5 separate regions of the Homo sapiens genome follow, and regions 2, 3, 4 and 5 are each reported to be linked to region 1. Evidence: microRNA targets listed by miRTarBase, many of them from high-throughput screens and not tested one by one. Region 1 holds a microRNA gene; each other region holds the end of a gene's coding sequence.
The links. Region 1 holds the annotated microRNA hsa-miR-1293 (UGGGUGGUCUGGAGAUUUGUGC, at 2,221-2,242, opposite strand). A microRNA usually pairs through its seed, bases 2 to 8, with sites in the 3' UTR of a target mRNA and lowers its output. Matches are read on the target gene's strand: a 7mer-m8 pairs with bases 2 to 8, a 7mer-A1 pairs with bases 2 to 7 and ends in A, and an 8mer does both.

Region 2: the mRNA of SESTD1 is a reported target of hsa-miR-1293. The part of its 3' UTR that is shown has no 7-base or 8-base seed match.
Region 3: the mRNA of TPCN2 is a reported target of hsa-miR-1293. Seed matches in the 3' UTR shown: 7mer-A1 at 790-796.
Region 4: miRTarBase lists DIAPH1 as a target of hsa-miR-1293. Seed matches in the 3' UTR shown: 7mer-m8 at 839-845.
Region 5: miRTarBase lists TMEM54 as a target of hsa-miR-1293. Seed matches in the 3' UTR shown: 8mer at 863-870.

Annotation. Positions count from the first base shown.
Region 1 is chr12:50,231,962-50,236,077 of GRCh38, forward strand. It overlaps MIR1293 (microRNA 1293), which reads right to left and starts at 2,251; the gene lies at 2,181-2,251. The region is part of intron 2 of LIMA1 (LIM domain and actin binding 1); the gene reads right to left. RefSeq lists enhancers at 408-457, 2,895-3,396, 3,397-3,896 and a silencer at 2,554-2,693.
Region 2 is chr2:179,106,347-179,110,462 of GRCh38, forward strand. SESTD1 (SEC14 and spectrin domain containing 1) reads right to left here. Exons shown (of 18, transcript NM_178123.5): 18 at 1-3,682. The coding sequence ends at 3,553. Among named protein-coding and RNA genes, the nearest start is that of CCDC141, 58 kb to the left of the region's middle. RefSeq lists silencers at 182-382, 1,462-1,662.
Region 3 is chr11:69,087,053-69,091,168 of GRCh38, reverse strand. It overlaps TPCN2 (two pore segment channel 2), which reads right to left. Exons shown (of 25, transcript NM_139075.4): 24 at 3,963-4,057; 25 at 572-3,294. The coding sequence ends at 3,216. Among named protein-coding and RNA genes, the nearest start is that of MIR3164, 5.9 kb to the right of the region's middle. RefSeq lists a silencer at 2,277-2,416.
Region 4 is chr5:141,513,466-141,517,581 of GRCh38, reverse strand. DIAPH1 (diaphanous related formin 1) reads left to right here. Exons shown (of 28, transcript NM_005219.5): 28 at 574-2,561. The coding sequence ends at 731. It overlaps LOC124901091 (a long non-coding RNA gene), which reads right to left and starts at 574. Exons shown (of 2, transcript XR_007058971.1): 1 at 1-574. RefSeq lists enhancers at 293-918, 919-1,544, 2,171-2,796, 2,768-3,017, 2,797-3,422 and 2 more.
Region 5 is chr1:32,891,407-32,895,522 of GRCh38, reverse strand. It overlaps TMEM54 (transmembrane protein 54), which reads left to right. Exons shown (of 6, transcript NM_033504.4): 5 at 84-218; 6 at 644-928. The coding sequence ends at 718. HPCA (hippocalcin) reads right to left here. Exons shown (of 4, transcript NM_002143.3): 3 at 1,894-1,999; 4 at 877-1,758. The coding sequence ends at 1,661. Among named protein-coding and RNA genes, the nearest start is that of HPCA, 7.0 kb to the right of the region's middle. RefSeq lists an enhancer at 1-107 and a silencer at 2,351-2,530.

The DNA of each region.
Region 1 (4,116 bases):
TTTACCATGTTGGCCAGGCTGGTCTCGAACTCCTGACCTCAAGTGATCCACCTGCCTCGGCCTCCCAAAGTGAGTGCCCAGCTTTTTTTTTTTTTTTTTTTTTTTTGAGATAGGGTCTCACTCTGTTGCTCAGGCTGGAATCCAGTGGTACAACCATGGTTCATCATGGTTCACTGCAGCCTTGACCTCCCGGGCTCAAGCAAACCTCCTGTCTCAGCCTCCTGAGTGGCTGGGACTATGTAAGTGCACACCACCACACCTGGCTTAATTTTTTTATTTTTGTAGAGATGGGGTCTTGCCATGTTGCCTAGGCTGGTCTCAAACTCCTGAGCTAAAGTGATCCTCATGCTTCAGCCTCCTAAAGTATTGAGATTACAGGCATGAGCCACCAGCCCGGCTACTTTCTTTTTTCTTTTTTTTTTTTTTGAGATGGGATTTCCCTCTGTTACCCAGGCTGAAGTTCAGTAGCGTGATCTTGTCACACTGCAACCTCCGCCTCCAGGGCTCAAGTGATCCCACCACCTCATCCTCCTGAGTAGCTGGGACCACAGATGCACACCACCACACCTGGCTAATTTTGTATTTTTCGTAGAGACAGGGTTTCACCATGTTGACCAGGCCAGTCTCAAACTCCTGAGTTTAAGTGATCTGCTGGCCTCAGCCTCCCCAAATGCTGGGATTACAGGCATGAGCCACCAGGCCCAGCCCCCCAGCCACTTTTAATCTTTAAGAAAACCAGTTCTGGGCTGGGTGAAGTGGCTCATGCCTGTAATCCCAGCACTTCAGAGGCCGAGGTGGGTGGATCGCCTGAGGTCAGGAGTTCAAGACCAGCCTGGCCAGCATGGTGAAACCCCACCTCTACTAAAAATACAAAAATCAGCCAGGCATAGTGGCGCACACCTATAATCCCAGCTACTCGGGGGGCTGAGGGACGAGAATCGCCTCAACCCAGGAGGCGGAGGTTGCAGTGAGCTGAGATCACGCCACTGCACTCTAGCCTAGGTGACGGAGCGAGATTCAAAACAAACAAACCCAAAAAAACAGTCTGCATACCTATTTCTGCCAGCAGTTGCTTTTAATCAACTCTATCAGAAGAAGCTGTAAATCAGAGCAGACCTCACTTCCTGCAGCTATTCCAGTCATCTGCTCTGATATAACAACAAGATCCCCGTGGATAAGGTCAAATGCTGAAACAATTGGATAGAGCAGAAAGTCTAGGCTTTAAGCCCCAGTTTTGCTGCTTATTAACTGTGATCTCTGGCAAGTGACTTAATCTCTCTAAGCCTCAGTTTCCTTATCTAGAAAGAAGTTACAATCTACTTTCAGGATTGCCAGGAAGATTAAATGTAATCATGTGTAAAAACATTTTGAAATTAGTTAAGTCCATACAGCAATGCATTAATTCCAACATATACATTTCCCCTCCCATATTTATGCCTGATATCTTACAATTGTTCTCAGCCAAATGGTTGAGAGATAGTCACATTGCCTGTACATGTTGAATTTAGTGTAAGTTATTGATATTGTCATTTTAACTCAGTTAAAAGTATTTGATGGTACTACATGGTTTTGTTTTGTTTGAGACAGAGTTTCGCTCTTGTTGCCCAGGCTGGAGTGCAATGGCACAATCTCGGCTCACTGCAATCTCCGCCTCCCGGGTTCAAGCATTCTCCTACCCCAGCCTCTCAAGTAGCTAAGATTACAGGCATGTGCCACCATGCCCGGCTAATTTTTGTATTTTTTACTAAAGACAGGGTTTCACCATGTTGGCCAGGCTGGTGTTGAACTCTTGACCTCATGTGATCCACCTGCCTCAGCCTTCCAAAGTGCTGGGATTAAAGGCTTGAGCCACAGCACACAGCTATTATTATATGTTTTAAATGCCACTTAAAAATGTCTTTTAAAAGATCATACTATGTTTGGCATTTAAGGAAAAATTATTTTACATATGCACAAGAGTGATATGTGAGAAAAGTTTGTAATAAGCAGTGATTAGTTTAATCAGCATTTTTTCTTAGAGATGCAAAAATAGTGGCACAGCTATAGTTGATGACATCTTAGATTTCATAAATAATTATTTGTTATTACTTTTATCATTTTGTCATTTTTATTACTTGGATTGGAAGACCTCTGAGAAAAAAATTAAAGTTCTTTTCAAGGAGGAACAGGTTTTCTCCATTTAAAGACTAAGTGGTCCGGAGATTTGTGCAGGTACAAGCTGCACAAATCTCCAGACCACCCAGAACAACCTTTTTTTTTTTTTTTGAGACAGAGTCTTGCTCTGTTGCCCAGGCTGGAGTGCAGTGGCACGATCTCAGCTAGCTGCAACCTCCGCTTCCTGGGTTCAAGTGATTCTCATCCCTCGGCCTCCCAAGTAGCTGGGATTACAGGCATGCCCCACCACACCTGGCTAATTTTTGCATTTTTAGTAGAGACAGGGTTTCACCATGTTGGCCAGGCTTGTCTCGAACTCCTGGCCTCAAGAGATACGCCTGCTTTGGTCTCTCAAACTGCTGAGATTACAGGCATGAGCCACCATGCCTGGCCCTAGAACAACCTTAACCTGGCTTCCTCCAGACCTCTGAGTCATGCATTGAAGTCAGCACCACCACGTGGAGAATCACCATTATGTGCCTCTCCTTGGGCCTGCCTTAGCAGAACTCAGCCCCACCCCTAGAAAAGGGCACTGTCCTCTGCCTAAAGGTAGAATTTCAGAATTCATGAGGCATTTGGAGTAGGAGGTAAAAGAAGAAGAAAAAAAGCAGCCTCAGGCCTGGTGCAGTGGCTCACACCTGTAATCCCAGCACTTTGGGAGGCCGAGCTGGGCGGATCGCTTGAACCCAGGAGTTCGAGACCAGACTGCGCAACACAGTAAAACCCTGTCTCTACGAAAAATACAAAAATTAGCCAGGTGTGGTGCACGCCTGCAGTCCCAGCTACCGGGGAGGCTGAGATAGGAGGATTCCTTGAGCCAGGGAGGTTGAGGCTGCAGCGAGCTACGATCATGCCACTGTACTCTAGCCTGAGCTACAGAGTAAGACCCTGTAGCTTGCCTTGACCTCCAGGACTCAAGCAATTCTCCTACCTCAGCCTTGCAAGAAGCTGGGTCTAAAGACGTCTACCATCACACCCGACTAATTTAAAAAAATTTTTTTTAGTATAGGGTCACGCTATGTTGCCCAAGCTGGTCTCAAACTCCTGAGCTCAAGTGATCCTCCTGTCTCAGCCTTTCAAAGTGTTGAAATTACAGGCATGAGCCACCATGCCCAGCCAAGAAAGAGTATTACATAAAGGGTCTTCCAATCCTATCACTTTTTTTTTTTTTTTTTTTTTTTGAGAAGGAGTCCTGCTCAGTCTCCTAGGCTGGAGTATAGTGGTGTAATCTCGGCTCACTGCAACCTCTGTCTCCCGGGTTCAAGTGATTCTCCTGAGTAGCTGGGATTACAGGTGTGCACCGCTATGCCCGGCTAATTTTTGTTTTTTTACTAGAGACGGGTTTCACCAAGTTTGCCACGCTGGTCTCGAACTCCTGACCTCAAGTGATCCACCAGCCTTGGCCTCCCAAAGTGCTGGGATTACAGGTGTAAGCCACCGTGCCCAGCCCCCAATCCTATCACTGTCTAATTTTAATAATCAGATATTAACAAGCATCTCAGTCGCCATGTAGTACTGCTCTGCAATTGAGCAGAACTCTCTAATGGGGTAGGGTAAAAGGGCTACCAAAAATTTCTGGCACTTCGTTGACCATAACTAGGAAGAAAGTGGGATTAGAACTGCTGTGATTCAATTGACAAGCTGAAAATATATTTGCAACTTATATTACAGACAAAAAATTAATTTCCCTAGAATATAAATAACTACTAATAAGCAGGAAAATGACAACTGAATAAATAAAAAGGCAGATATAAACATACTGTTCACGGCTGGGTGCGGTGTCTCATGCCTGTGATCCCAGCACTTCGGGAGATGGAGGTGGGTGGATCACCTGAGGTCAGGAGTTGGAAACCAGCCCCGCCAACCTGGCAAAACCCTGTCTCTACTAAACATACAAAAATTAGCCAGGCATGGTGGTAGGCACCTGAAATTCCAGCTACTAGAGAGACTGAGGCACGAGAA
Region 2 (4,116 bases), not on the chromosome of region 1:
GATGTGAGAAGGGGAGTAGTACATAATAATGCCCAATCTCTATTAGCAAGTAACTTACAATGTAGTAGAGAATTCTGAACTATTTCTTCAAATGTAGACCATAGATTCAGCTAACTTCATAATCACATCATTGGTAACAATGGGTTTAGATCAGAGTATGGTTTACTCATCACTGTTAGTAAGGTAACTTAATTGTCATGCTCACGCTAAGGAGTACGACACTAATAATACCACTCCGTATGTCAGCTAATAAGATAACGAAATAACAAACATGTTAAGACTAGCTAACACATGGGAGCAATAGCCAATGTAAATTTGTATAAAGTGAGAAGTATTCAATCTTCTACCTAACAATGAAGCCTAGACCTGCCATCAATATCCCAGCTGGCAGGCTGAGCAGTTTCATCAACATCACCAATGAGTCACCAGAACTGAACAAAGTGACCAACAATGAGGACTGGGAACAAAGCCAATTTGACCTAAAATGAAGTCATCATTTTTGCATAACTCTGCTGGGTTAGACATGTGCGAAGAACAGATGCCAAACTGCCATTATATATTAAGCTTACACAGGAGCAAACAAATGATAAAAGAAAAAAAAAATCCTCAAACAAACAAAAAAACCCAAAAAAACCAAAACAAAATGAAACTAACCCTGCCAGCGTTTCAATAATTCCCTGAGATGGGCTAAAGGAATGTGGGAGGTTGTGACATATATACCAATTACAAATGAGTGGTTCTTTCAGAGACTTGCAAGCTGATGTTAATTTATGACATAGAAACAGCTTGTGGTTTCAAACACACTGCAGTCACTTTTTTCACACGTTTACCTTAAGTGAGCTTTGACCCTATGGAAGAAAGTTGCTTTAGGGCATTACTGGATTTTCATTCATAACTCTATGTACAGATACACATATGAAAGCAGCAGCAAATTTACAGATGAGGAGCAATGATATTCATTATGTTAAAATCATACTTGGCCTCATGTGAAACACTCAATTTACAAGTAACATTTATGAATCCTGCCTTATTTTACTTTTTGTAGGCAAGATAGCTTAAGGTATATAAAAATTAACTCATTTGGCAATTATAACTCCATGAGTTGATGGCAGAATTACTAACAAACCAGTTCCTTTCTAGCAAAGTCTTAAGAAAAACATTCTAACTACTCTGAAATTCAGAAGAAACAGATATTGAGTATTGATATTTAGTTATTGAGTATAACTAAATATCTAAAGTAGTTAGTATCTAAGAATCTAAGAATAGATTCACTTGTAAGTCAGTTCTAACTTTAAAAAAGTATGTTTAAAACATACTTCAGACTGCAATGTAACAGGGATTATTACTAATGCCTATAATACAGCATTCATATTTAGGAGGAATGGGCATCTGTTATGCATGAGCAAGACTGGGAATAGGAGAAGACAAGATTCCTTCCCTCAAAAGAGCTTACTGGGTACAGACATAAACAACTGTAGAATGTGATAGCACCATCATGAAGACTGAAATAAATAATCACAAAAGTTCATACTCATAGCAGTAAAGCCCCAAAGGACTGAGAAGATGATTCAAGTATAGAAAGAACTTCCTGGATGTTCTCAGAAGCAGTGACCACATAAGACAAGAGGGAGCAGTTGAACTTTGCCCTGAACTTCCTGGCATGTTTGACTAGGAAAAAAGGCTGCACCATTAACCTAAATTGTTCCAGGAGGAAAAGGTGATAAATATTGTCAATCTTTAATCAAGGTTGAAATGTCAACTAGGCAATTAAAAAGAAGTACAAGTCTAGATTTCTGGACCAGGTATGTAATCCAGAACATTGGTATAAAATAAAAACTCTAAGGATGAGATACCGAGAAAAGAGCCAAAAGCATTCTGAGGACAGGATCTGAGAGAGCACATGTTCAGCAGGCACATCTTAAATTAGGGTTATGCGACTGTACTCACAGTTATTTCAGAGGATAGCATCTTCAAGGAAGGAGACACTGTCTAGGAAAGGTTGCTCAATGGTGTAAATGTTGCAGAGAAAAGGGTAAGGGATTCAGACGGAGAAAAAAACCATTCAGTTTGGTAACTGGGAGGCCATTGCTGACTTTCAAAAGAACAGTTTCAGTAGAGTGCTGTGTAAAACCAGACTGCAAGGTGCTGAGTAGTGAGTGATGAGGATGTAGGGGCACTGGATGTGGATTTCTCCAAGAAGTCTGTCAGTCAGTGAAGAAGGCTGGAAAAACTAGCAGGTTAAAAGGGAGGGGTTTTTTTTTTGCATTGGAAGATACACGAGCATGTTTGTAGACCTCAAAAAGGAACCAGTATACAACTCGTTTATAATTTTGTAATGACTACAAGACTAAAAAATAATTTTTAATATTTTAAAAAATGTTCTGAAATAAAAATACATAAAATTTAAATTATATGCATTTTACCATTTAAACTTAATACAAACTTAAAAGAACTAGCATTTCATGATAAATTTTATTTCTAAAGGGGTCATACAGTTCTGTTATTGGACTACTTCAGAATTTATTTTGCTTTTAGACTATAATGAGAAACTAAATTTTATTAACAATTGCTATTTTAGTTCCTGAAAGATTACTCTGATATAAAGGATTACACTGAAGTAATTATGTATGCCTTCTTCCTCAGCCCTCCTCCCCTAAAGACAAAGTATCTTCAGGGTAGTTAATAATTTTGAGAATATTTTTCAAGTTGAAAAAGAGAAAAATTAGAAATAGTATTCCATTATTAATAAGTTCTTAAAGATCTAAATTGTTCACAATAATTTTTCATGATAAAACATGCTTATTTATTATATACACATGCTTACATATGTATTTCCTGTCTAAAATACATGCAACCACCATGAAAAAACAAATATTAAACCATCCTCACAGTCCTAAGAATGCCCTTTTAAATAAGGCACTCATGTTTGGAAATAGGATGTAACTACTAAATTAAATAAGATGTTTAAAGAAGTCTTTTATTAAGCACAAACAACTTTTAATACATTATCAATACAAATAGGAAAAGGTCTTTTAATGACTATGATATATCAAAGATCTGAAAGGCTTTCTCTGTATTGACACAATAAAAATAATCAATTCTGAAGAATTACAAAGTAAAATTTTGAGGACACCACTGTCTACTAACAAGAGTTTAACTACTGTCTAAATTTACTAAATCACCTGTGGAGGAAGGGCAACTTTTTTTTTTCTTTTTAATAGAGAGAATTCCTACTCTTATTAGCACCATTCAAAGCTTATTATCAGTTGTTTGTCTACAAACTGACAGGTCAGGTAAAGCTTTAAAGCAAGTTTTCAGTGCAATGTTTATAGTTCCTTCTTTTAAGATACTTGGAATCTACAGCCTCGAAGCATGTTAAGTAATTATGCCTTGGTAGTAGCAAGGTGTTAACATGTAAAGAGAAATGTGTCATGAAAAGAAATGAGACTTATTTTGGCTGTGAAATGCATCTTAAGGTGTGGTGGCTAATGCTGTAGTATGTTGACAACATGCGGGATTATGAACTGCAAATCTGTAGGTAGCTGGTAGCTATTAGCTCTCTGTGGTCACCATTTCAGGATGTCTCAGCTGCTGCCTTTTGAGATTAACTAGTTTCATCCTGTCTCTGATGTTTTCTGCAGTAGAAGCCATGTCACTTGGACTCCCAAAATATTGTTCGGTTCTAAAAATCAAAACACACAGAAAAACCTCAGATTAATACAAATCTATTAACTGCAGTGAATACAAATAGAAGCAAAAATTTACCATAAAAAATCTACATGAGATAGCCTATGTGTAAATATCAGTTCATCGGTGATCATACTGTTTGAGCAGGAAATTCAGCAGGAAAAACATTTTTTAAAATGGCATAAAATACATTAAGACATGATGAGAAAAATATATTGATGGTATAAAGGTTATATCATGTGTAGTTATGATAATAGCAACAAATTGAACAATGAAACACTGGAAATATGTGGGTCCAGAAGGATGCACAAACATAAAATTTATACAGGTACTTGAGTGCTACCGGCTGGGGACACCACTTGTCTATAGAGCTGGCAAGCAAAATAAATATTCTTTTTAATGTTATGACATTTTTTGGTACATTAACAG
Region 3 (4,116 bases), not on the chromosome of region 1:
CTGGTGGCATGTGCCTGTAGTTACAGCTACTCAGGAGGCCAAGGTAGGAGGACTGCTTGAGCCCACAAGTTGGAGGCTGCAGTGAGCCATGATCACACCACTGCACTCCAGCCTGGGTAACAGAGCAAGACCCTAAAATAAATAAATGAATAAGTAATAAAGTAAAAACTTTTTAAATCTCATAGCAAACAACTGTGCTGAATTCTTTTTTTTTTTTTTTTTTTTTTTTGAGACGGAGTCTCGCTCTGTCGCCCAGGCTGGACTGCGGACTGCAGTGGCGCAATCTCGGCTCACTGCAAGCTCCGCTTCCCGGGTTCACGCCATTCTCCTGCCTCAGCCTCCCCAGTAGCTGGGACTACAGGCGCCCGCCACTGCGCCCGGCTAATTTTTTGTATTTTTAGTAGAGACGGGGTTTCACCTTGTTAGCCAGGATGGTCTCGATCTCCTGACCTCATGATCCACCCGCCTCGGCCTCCCAAAGTGCTGGGTGAATTCTTACTATTCTTAATAATTTTGGCTTTTCTATGTAGACATCATATTTGAGAATAAAGCATTACGTTTCTTCTATTGCTGTTTTTATGTACTTACATATTTATTGCATCTTAATGAGGCAGGACCCTCAGCAGCATGTAGATTTTGCTGTTGCTGATTGTAAAGGCCCTGACAGTGACAACTTCCATTTGGAAAGCTGTTTGCTGAAGGTTTTGGCAGCAGGGCGTCCACACAAGAGGGGTACACAGTGTGGGAGTCAAAGCCCCAGTCGGATGAGCAGGGCATCTCTGTGGGGAGTGGGTGGCAGTGATGGGAGGCTGGGGACATGCAGGAAAACTGACCCAATAATAGATTAAGGAGAATGAGAACCATTCCCAGAAAGGGCCTTACAGCTATGGAAAGAGAGAAAAACTGGAACGTACCCTGTGGTGCTGGGCTAAAATCGGAGGTATTAGTATCATTCCCAGCTGTGAATAGATGAGACAGAGAGAGAGATGGAAGTACGTGCACATATCCTCTAGCTCTGTCCACTAAGAGCTCCCGGGTGCAGCAATCTGCAACAGCCAGGAGCACGCCTCGCACCCACATCCTGGTTCCTGATGCTACTCTCCATTCAAAAGAACAGGTCTTCTTAGAGCTGCAGCTCACTCCAATAAATGAAAGAGAAAGGGGCAGGCAAGTATAAAATAAGGCTTGAACATCTTTTTGCACCAGAAAGTAAAGAAACAGCTAAAGAACTGTAGGTACATAACAAAAAAAACACAAAAGGCAGAAGAAGGGGCTCCCACGGGCCAAACAAGCAGGACCTGAGCCTGAGAGTAAATGTCATAACAGACCACAGCCCTGAATACAAGAAGGGACCAGGATCCACACAGGTGGGAGCAAGGAAGGAAGGAAAAAGTAAAGGCAGTTTGACAGGGATGGGATATTGGCATCGCTTCACACTACCTCCCCACTCATTCATTACAAAGGGGTCGTTCACTGGGCAGTGGAGAAGCTGACCAGGGCCACCTTCACCAAGCAACAAGAGAGAACACCAGCAGGAGGCTAACTGCATTGGGCAGCCCCTGCCAGGAGGCAGTGTCCATCCTGTGACACTCCTAGACGAAACGCAGACCCAGAACCTACCACAAGGAAACGTCACATGAACACAACCTGGGAGCCATGGGCTTATCTCCAGAAGTGCCAAGGTCGTCTAAGCCCAGGGAGACGGAGCCACCGTCCAGGCGGATTAAGTCGCCATGACCACAAAGCCACGTGCGACTCACTCCTGACATGAATGCGGGTTGGACGCCGTCCCAAAGCACAGAGGGTGCAGGGCCAGAACGGCAACCACTCAAGTGACTCAGAAGGAAGCTTCTCTTTACTGTGCTTACAACTTTTCTCCAAGTTTGCGGTGGTTTCCATATTGTTATTGTTATTGTTATTGTTATTATTCAACACGAGTAAAAAGAAACTCATGACCTTCTCCTTGGACTCGCTCCTCTCCCCAATCTCGATACCGACTGCACTGTTGTTCGGGTCGCCCCCTCCCCCACCATCCCACAGGGGCTATGGCGTGGGCTCAGCACCTCTGAAGGAAAAGCAGATGAAAGAACTTGTGCCTCCCAGGCGAGAATGCACAGTGCAGGGGCAACCCTGGCAGGGCCCATCCCTTCCTGGTCCCGCTGAGCTCGGGCACAGACCGGGCACCAGGCTCGGTGTGGAGTGTGATGGGGAGTGGTGTCCCCGGAGTTGTTTCTGGGAGTTGCTGGGTCCACCTTACCTTAAATGTAGTCAACCAAGTCCCATCCCACCACTAGATGGCACCCAAACCTCAGCAGAAAGGGGGCGTGGGTTGGCCCCTGAAGTGAGAAAACCATTGGTCAATCTGGACCTGGCGTGCTTCAGGTGACAACAAGGCTTTCCACACACTGCTCGCTCGCCCCACCTCCCCACCCCAGGCCCCCTGCCACACACCTGAAGACACAGGAAATAAGGTCACCCATTGGCTTATACATGCCTTTGAGCAAAACAGAAAAGGTGCCCCTCACTGCAGGTAGACAGCCCCCCGCCAGGATACACCTCACAGCCATGTGCCCTTGTGCAATGCACAACCCAAGCAACCTTACTCAACAACCCTACTCCAGAGAAGCAGGACTAGAACTGTGCTGAAGTGAAGAATGACAATCCCATTCTTTGCAAGACTTATTGATGAAAATAACTGGCAATCAGAACCCTAAAGAAACACACCCAGTCACACTCATACAAGCCATGAAATAATAAAACACAGTCAAGGTTCTCTCCATGTCAAACCACCAGCATCCCCACCTGAATGCCCCGGAAGTCTGACGGTTAACCTGTGCAGGCCCTGGTCAGGCCTGTGGTCCCCAAGGGCTGCCGGCAGCAAAGGCACCACGGAAGCTGCAGGGGACAGGGGAGGCCGCTGCTTCTTGCATTTTTGTCTGAAAGGTCCCTGTGGAGTCGACGAGGGAATTCTCACTGAAGCAGCTATAAAAGAAAGCGGAGGGCACGGCGCCTCCCTGAAGCACCAGCAGCTGTTCTGTAGATGGTTGTTGGGCCACACGCAAAGGACTTGGTTCCTGTCCCCAGCTTAGTGGTCCGTCAGAGGAAAGGTCTCTTCCTGCCTGGCTGGCCACAGCATGGCCGCCTCTTCCATGACGGGCACCTGTGTAGGCCAGCCTCTCTCTCCTGCCGCCCCTGCTGGGACGGCAGCCCGGACGTCACCTGCACAGCCACAGGTGCGGGTGCTGGCTCAGCCTCTCTGTGAGCTCATCCTCCCCGGGCTCCTCCAGAATATCCCTGTGGAATTGAGGAAAGATGCACACAGGGGCCTCTAAAGGAGGGAGACCCTGGCCTGCCCACAAGAACAAGGGAGCAGAGCTTAGCAACACATGCGAAGTGAGTGTCACAGGGACACAGAGACACGGGGACTCAGATGAGCCTCAGGATGGATGTAGCCACTAGAAATATCTACACGGCATTCTTAAAAGCCCAGGGGCCACGTCTTCCCACTGGCTGGCAGGACCGCAGGGCTTGGCTGCAGCAACTCGGCAGCCCCTGGTGGAAGGCACAGAGGCCCCACAGCAGGGCTGCCTCTGGGTGGTCACTTTTCTGGACTAGCAGAGGAACCATCTCAAAGCTGCCAGGAGAAGAGATGGGTGCGTTTTCCTCAGGTCCCTTGTTTACATCCAACAGGATCCAATGGACCCTGAAGGATGGTGCCTTAAATATGCCCAATCCAAGAGCAGGAGAGCAGGACAAAGGCTATGACGCCAGTGGCAGGAAGAAGAAGCCGCCCCGATCCCGGCTCTGAGCTGCTCTCCTAGAGCACAGGACCAAAGCCAGATAACCGGGCGGAGGGGGAGGACAGTCATCAGGGCCTGCCCGCCGCCTCAACCCCTCCACCCCCCAGCTCTTGGCTTCCCATCCCAGGGGGCCAGACAGAAGCGCCTTCCCCACCCACACACCTGAACAGGAGCTCCACAGTCATCTGGTAGGTGGCCTCTGGGGTCCCAGCAAGGGGCTGCAGGTGGCTGCGGGGGTCCCACTTGTGAAGGAAGTTCTGGCAAGCAGGAGGAGTGGCCAGTGAGTGTGGGCCCCGAATGAAAGCAGCCTTGCCCC
Region 4 (4,116 bases), not on the chromosome of region 1:
GTGGGCATCTGTTGTTGGAGGAACACGTGGGAGTGCGGTGTCAGTGCGTGGCTGCTGTTCCTCTTTGCGGGAGTCTCTCCAGCCACTTACGGAAGGTTGCCTTCTGCTAGGGACAACCCTCCCAGGGCTGACTGAGAAGTGTTTTGGCCTAGGAGTTTCCTGGGACCTGTCAAGAAAACAAAAATAATACTATGTACTAAACTTTAGTCTATTTAATTCCAACATCCCTATTACGAGAAAATAGACTTTGAATACTTCATCTCTCCTTAAGTCACATAGCTAACACTTCAGCCCAGTTCTGTCTGTCTGTGTTCAAACTTTTGTGCTGTTTTCACACAGGGAAGCAAGGGGGCAAGGCTTGCTTTCCTGTTGCACCACACTCTCTTACATTCTTTGCCACCCAACAATATATTCCACATGCTGGATCTCTGCCCCTTTCTTCAAAGTAAGGGCCTCTGTGAAGTGGCCAAGGTAGTCATGTCTGCATGGCTTACGCTGATTATCTGCTGTAGAGTTTGAAAGAAATTAGAAATGAGGCCTTCCATAGACAGAATCTCTCGTCTTCTCTTGCAGCCAACAGGAAGGCCGGGTGTGCAGTCACATCTCTGCTAGCTTCGGAGCTGACCAAGGATGATGCCATGGCTGCTGTTCCTGCCAAGGTGTCCAAGAACAGTGAGACATTCCCCACAATCCTTGAGGAAGCCAAGGAGTTGGTTGGCCGTGCAAGCTAATGTGGGTCCTGTGACCGCGGCAGCTCCTCAGCGGAGCCGCAGACTGTCCTGCCCTGCAGCATGTGCCTAAAGGCTCAAGGGGATATTCCTCTGGGGTGGCCACTCCCACCACCCTGACCCTGTCTTTCTCTCTGGCCTGCTGCTCTCTCAACATCACATACAGCTTCAGCTGCCTGGAGGCCAGAAGGAAAGGGCAGTGCAGGGGAGGCCTGAGCCCGACTTAGCCAGCCCTGGCTGTTGTATTACCAAAGCAGGGTCCATGTTTGCTGCCTTAACCCTGTCTCCTCTCTGTTACTCAGAGGGCCTCATCTCAGACAAGGCCCAGCCTGCTTTTTCTCAGCCCTGACTTTCTAATGGGCTTTCCCCCCTAGGTCAGTCTTGCTGGATTTGTGCTTTTCTTTTGTGGTTTCTCTGGCCCTGAGAATAGCATGGGGCTTGTAAACCTTTGGGCTAGATCCCTCCTTTCATTGCTGTTGTCTCTGCTCTTCCCTCTCCTGGCTGTGGTTATTTATTATTAGTGGTGTGGCACTGGGAGCTGCTCCTAAGGAAGCAGGGAGCAAATCCCACCTTTACCCCACCTTCCTGGGAAAGGCCTCCAAAGCAAAGGATCTGGACCAGTTTCCCTGCTGTGCTGTGGCCCAGGCCAGAGCCTGTGGGCAGGCAGGCAGGGCATAGCGACAGTGTGGGACCTGCCCCCAGCTTCTGCCACGCTTTATGCCCTTGCCTCTCTGGACGCTCTGCACCAACCCCAGGCTACTGAGCCACCTTCCCTCCTCATGCCTTCCCTGAGCTTTGGTGCATCTCATCTGGACTATGGGTTGTACTGTGACCATCCCAACACCTCACCCTCTGTCTACAAGGAAATGGGAGGTGGAGCCTCCTGGCTGAGAAATTGTTTTGCAAATGGATCTATTTTTGTATGAAAAAAAAAATTTTTTTAAAGAAAACTGTTCCTTCCCCCTTTCCCCTCCATAATGTAAGAAGCTTTGGTGGCAGGTTACAGAGTTCTGGGATTTCTTCTCACAGGCCCAATCCTGAATGTGCCCCTGGACCTTCTGGACCCTTGAGTCCAAGGCAGATCCTCTCTCCCAGGGAATCCGACACAGGAGGAACCCCTTCTCTGGTTGAGCTGGGCCAGGCCTAAGAGTAGCAGGAACTCTAAGACCACAGAGTTTTTTATAAATGTATAAATGTATCAAGCCAAATGTGCAGATGCTAACTGGACATTCTGGGGAACTGGGCACCAGGAGTGCCTTCATACACTGTACCCCAGCTCTCTTCTAAAAGAGAAGTGGGTGGGCACACTGAACTGTTTGGTGGCCCCAACCACAGGAAGCTGCAATTCTCTGGCTTAGGGTGATACTTTTGCCCTCCTTGTGCCCCTCTCAGCTTTCCATCCCCAGCTAGGAAGAAAGAATGGCACTCTTGGGCTTGGCCCAGAATTAGAGTTATTAGAGCAAGAGAGAGCTTAGGAAGCATGAGGGCAACTATAGTGAGGCCTTATTGCCAGGAGGGAGGGTTTTGGTTGCTGGCGCTTGTGTATAAAGGGGCAAGAGCAGCTCCTTTGGACTATTCCTGGGAGGACTCTGATGCAGGGCGTCTGTTGCTCCCCTGGGTCACCTCCTCCCTGCTCGCTGACATCTGGGGCTTTGACCCTTTCTTTTTTAATCTACTTTTGCTAAGATGCATTTAATAAAAAAAAAGAGAGAGAGAGAGAGGTGTGAGGGACAAAATGCAAACCTATTTCCCTTGCCTCATAGGCTTCTGGGATGTCATCACCTCCAGTTTGTTGGTTTTGTTTCCAACTGTTAATAAAGCATTGAAACAGTACTGCCTTACAGCTTCCTGTGTGAATTTCTGAGCTGTTTTCTTTTCACTCTAGTCCAGGCTCCTCTAGTCTTTCCTGCCTCAAATCCCTGGTTGACCTGACAAATCACTGTGAAAAAGCTAAAGGTGCCAGACACTTTACTTGGGCACAGGGCTAGAGATGATTAATACATGGTGGCTGCTGCCCCACCAGAGCTCACCTCAGGGCCGTTTGGCCACAGTAAAGGAGTGGGCGCCTGGTTCAGCTCCCTGACTCTTCCACATTGCTGCTACTTGGTTTGGAGCCCTTTTTTGGAACTCACTTGGAACCTTTCATGTTCCCAGATGTCACGCAAGGTTTCCTGGCAGTACCTGTGTCTCTTGCTGAGGGAAGCATCTGGCTCCCATTTTCTCATCCCCTCTGCTCTGTTGGTGGCCACAGACCACATTCCAGAGTAGAGGGGTTTACCCTGGGGTGGAAACCTGAGCCTGCCCAGCAGAGGTTGGGAGCCTGAGGTCATGCTCCAGATGACTTGCCACTTGGAGCCATACTTGTCTGAGCACGTTATGACCTGCACAAAAAAGCCAGACCAGCAATGAGCAGGCCCAGGATAGACAGGGAGAGGCCTGGAGAGGACCACAAACCCATTCGGGCGGGCTCTGGAACTGGAAATAAAAGCCTTTTAAATAGCCCTGGAGCCTGGGCAGCTGCCTCCTCAGTATGGCCTGAGGTGTGGGGATGGGTTGCCTGCCGCCTCCCTCCCGTCCCCCCGGAGGCCACGCCTTTCTGGTTCAGAGCTTTATAGGCACACATACCAATTAGGGGACAAACCACAGCTGCTCACGCGCTCTGCCAGTCTGCTGCTGTGCCTGGAATAGAACCCAGGCGCCCGGCACCCCGCCCCTCCGCAGCCTGGCTCTGAGTAACAAAACCCTGCTTCCATCTCAGCAACCGTGCACACCACCCTTCCTCCCACGCTAGAAAGTCGCCCCCAGATTCTTAAGTTGGAAGGTTTGGTTCCCATGACAACAGACTTGAGCTGGCAGAATGGGTGACCTGGCTCTGGGAGCCTCCGCAGCGCGGAGGAAGCCGCATACCCTTGCTGACCAGCCAGATAACCGCAGTGGCTCTGTCTTTGTGTTCTTGGGTCCTTCCGGGTAGTTCCCCTTTTAAGTCCCCCTTCACCCCCAGCTCCGTGTTTTTCTGCAGCTTCTCTGGCTGCAGCAACCTCGGAATCCCACAGTGCTTCGAGGAGGCAGGCGGAGGGGGCGGGGAGATGGGAGAGCAGGCGAGTGAGTGGAAAAGCACCGACAGGAAGGAGGGAGGGGAGCTGAGTCTGCGATGGATCTCATTTCCTGCACGTCCTTTCAGTCCCCTTGACCCCCGCAAGAAGAGGATGAGCCCTCCAATTTCTTAGGCTTCGCTACGGAGATGTCAGCGGGAAGGCGAATTCCAGATGGGGAAACTGAGGCTCGAGCTGCAGACTTGGCTTTGGAAGAATCACCTCCCGCATTCCCTCCCACTCCCGCGGCTTTCCCAAAACCCCTAGGCAGCGGGGGTGGGGGTGCGGGGGCAAAG
Region 5 (4,116 bases), not on the chromosome of region 1:
GCCCTCGCACGGGTGGGAAGGGCTCTTGGAATCCACCCTCCACCCCCAACTCCAGCCAGCCATCTCTGCCCCATGCCCCGCAGAGCTCCAGCCTGTGCCTCTGGGGCATCGCCCTAGTGCTCTGCGTGGCGGAGAACGTGTTTGCTGTACGCTGTGCTCAGCTCACCCACCAGCTGCTGGAGCTGAGGCCCTGGTGGGGGAAAAGCAGCCACCACATGGTAAGTTCCCTCCACAGCCCTGACTCCCCGAATTTCCTGGGAGCCCCTGCCAGGGTGCCCAAGCTGCTCTGCCCCACCCCTATGTATGGGCCCCCACCTTGAGAAATGGGGCAGAAGTTTTCTCCCCAGGAGCAAAGGGAGAGGCCTGGAGGCTGGGAGAGGTGAGATCTCCCAGCAGAGTCACACAGCTGACACCTGGCTCTCCTAGGGCCCAGGATGAGTCTTGAGGGAGGGGCAGGGGTGTCTGGGCTCGCACTGAGGGCATTGCAAAGGTCAGGCCTGGCTCTTGCAGTGGAGTGGGTAGTGATGCCCCTTTGCCCCCAGAGAGCCTTCCAGCCCTCACCTCCTTCCATTTCCCGGATGTCCTGGAGGAGGAGACCCAGGCTGAGAACCAGTGGGTCTGGCAGCCTCCTGTGTCTCTGCAGATGCGGGAGAACCCAGAGCTGGTGGAGGGCCGTGACCTGCTGAGCTGCACCAGCTCTGAGCCTCTGACCCTCTGAGAGATGATGTCCTGCCCAGGCCCGATGGCCACTAGGACCCTGCAAGCAACTCTGCTCTGTGACCAGGCCAGGATTCCTGGAGCTGGCCTGAGAGGGCTCAATGGACCCTCGGGGACCCAAGTGGGGCTTTCAACCCTCTCCCCCACCACCCAGCCCACTGCACTGAAATGAGACTTTATTCTGAAATTATTAAAAAGAACAGAGATGCTCCATTTGGCTGCATGCAGGGGGGGCGGTTGGGGGGACAGAGGGGAGGACAGGGGCTCAGCCAGGGGGACCGTGTCTCTTTCCCACGCAGGACACTGTGCATGGGGCTCTGGGTGCATCTGCCCATCTGTCTATGGGCCTGTGTGTGTGTGAGAGGCCAAACACAGAGAGCTCCGTGGGTCTGTGTGTATCCAAGTGCTAAAAGGCAGGCTGGCTTTCTGGGGCCCACAGCTGGCGGGCTAGTATCCTGGAAGGTTTCACTTGGTGGCTTGGCCTAGGGACCAGCAAGGGCTGGGGTGGGAAGGGTGGCTCAAGGAAGCCTCTTTCTCCAACTCCACACCCCTAGAATCCTTCTCTCCCCTCCAGATAAAAAGTCTCCTCCCCTGGGCATGACTCCCCCCACCCCGCAAGCTGAGACCTGCAAGAAGGGGACTGCCCCTTTGGGGGAGGGGTCGGGCCTTGGGGCTGGTGGGTGGGTAAGGGGGCCTGACTGAGGGGCAGACCAACCCAGCCTGTGTCTCTATTGTTGCCTCTGGGATTGGGGGGTGCTAACCGCTTACTTGCTTTGGCCTGGGGGTACCGCAGGGTTCCCTTTTCCGGAAGCCCCCCACAGGGCAGACCCGGGGAGAAGGGCTTCCCCAATCTGGCCCCCAGCCAGAATACACACAAGGGAGTGGAAGCTAAGAGCCGGGAGGGGGCCGGTGAAGGGAGGGAGGAAGGGGAACCTGGCTCCTCTCAGAACTGGGAGGCGCTGCTGGGGTCGCACTGCAGCAGACGCACGATGGACGGGTCGCTTTTGGCCCCGCGGATGAACTCCTCCAAGGACAGCTTGCCTGCAGGGCGAGGGGAGCGGTGATGGGGGAGGAGGCGGCAGCCTAGCGAGGGGAGGCGGAGCGGGAAAGGGAGGCAGGGAGGGAGGGAGGGAAAGGCGCCCGCCCCGTCCACCCCGTCCCGCCCCTGCCCCTCACCGTCGTTGTTTGTGTCCATTTGGCGGAAGATTTTCTCAGTCCTCTTTTCCGGGGTCGACTCGTCCTCCGGCATCTTCATCACGGACGAAACCATCTTGTAAATGGCCTGGGGGCGGGAGGGGAGGCGGGGAGTGAGAGGAGCCTGCCCGAGCCCCCACCCGCAAGATTCAGAGGCGCCCCCGGGCTCTCTGACGTTTGCTGCCCCCGCCTGGGCAAGGTGGAGTGGGGAATCACGGAGGCGTGGGGAGCCGAGGGCTTCGGGAAGGCGTGTCCGGGAAGGCCTCCCAGAAGAGAGGGCTATCGGGCGGGCCCTGCCGCGCTCCCTTGGAGGGCTGGGTGGGAAAGGAGCAAAGGCGCCGCAGGTGGAAGCTCCGAGCGGGCGCAGGGGTCAGGAGAGATGTTGGAGGACACCGGGGCCCGACAGTGGAGGGCCTGGAGCGGCGGGCTCAGGAGCGCGTGCCCCGGGGCACGCGCGTCGGGGGTAAGTACCGGGCTGGCACCCGGGCCCAGGGCGGCCCGCGCTCGGTGGTCGAAAGGGGGCGCCGGGCCAAGGGGGCGGCACTGCGCTGCGGGGCCGTCTGCTGCCGGCAGGGGGCGCGGCGCGGGCTGGAGGGCCAGAGGCAGCTGGGCCCAGAGGGGCGGGGAACAGTATGCAAATGAATGCAAATGAGCATCTGCAGCGGGCAGGGACCGCCAGGCTTGGCTAGGCTGGGCTGGGCAGAGGGCGGCAGCCGCCACGTGCAGTAGCTCCCGAGGCGACGTGAAAGAGAGTTCTTGCGCTAAATGTACAGAGCACGTAGGGCTTGGCCTGTAGCCTGGGTCGCAGTGCCTTGGAGCTCAAGGACCGAACCTGTCTCCTCAATCTTCCAGCTTTACCCGACCGACACTTCCTCCAAGAAGCCTCCCTTCTCCCATCCCATAAACTTCTGCTGCCTCAGATCCAGCTTCAGCCTCCACACTGGTCTCTTCCAGCCTCTGTCCCTCGGGTCTGTCCCCCATGCTGCCTCTGAAAGCTCTTTCCGAACACAGATCTCCACTGTTACGTCCCCAGCCTGCACACCACCCCCTCACTCCCGTCACACACAGGCCTCCTCTTAGGCCCGCCTTGCACCCAGCTCCTGCTGCTGCTTCCCACTTCTCCTTGGGGCTCAGTTTACAAGCTGTTTTCTTAGCGAGGTCTTCTCCAACCCAGGCTGGGTCAGGGTGCATATGGGCCCAGAGCCTGGCGGACTTTTCCTTTGCAGACATCTCTCCAGAAGTAATTATGTCTTTGCAGGGTTGTTCCTGCAAACATGGACGTCTAGCTAATGCCCATATCCCCAGAACCTGGGACCAGGCAGGGACTTCCCTATTTAAAAGCCATTGGCACTTCCCACTGCCCTCTGTACCAAGTTCAAACCATTCAGCCCTTGGGATTTAAGACGCTTTACAATCTGTCCACTGCTGACCCTCCTCCATCAGGTCTCCCCTGGCTGGGTGATTCTGCCAACAGCCAAACACCCCTGGCCCTTCAGATTCTCCAGCATTTACAGTCTTTGCCTGGAATAACGATACTAAGTACCACTTATCAGGGGCCCGCTCTGTGCCAAGTACTTCACATGCACTATTTCTAAACCTCACGCAAGCCCTGAAAAACAGGTATCATGATCCCCATTTTCCAGATAAGAAACTGAGGCTCAGAAGGAAATTGATGGCAGAGACTCGATTTGTACCTGTTCCCTCTTAGCTGCTGGAGGGATGCTTGGGCAGTGTGGGGTGGTGATAATCAGCAGGGCCTTTAGCATTAGACCCGGTCTGTAGTAACTGCTCAATGAATGGTAGCCACAGTTGTGACTGGATATCACTACCTGTCTGACCAGCACATGAATAGAGGGGTCTGGTAGTCTCAAGTTTCTAAAGTTAGATGGACCTGGAGTGGTGTCCTGGTTGAACTACTCACTAACTGTGTAGCCTTGGACATATATGTATCTGTGAGCCTCAGTTTCCTCAGATTAAATGAGATTATGTGTGAGGAACCGTGGCTGGCTAGAGTGGGTGGTCAGTAAACAGCAGCTCATATTATAGTCATTATTCATCCTCCACATCCTCAAGTCTTCCCTGCCACTCAGTAGTCCCCTGGTTCCCAGATGACACCTTTACACCCCTGTCACTGAGCTTGTCAGTGTGACCTACACATCTGTCTCCCCCACCAGAGTGGGAGCCCCAAGAGGCGCAGTCTCTTCC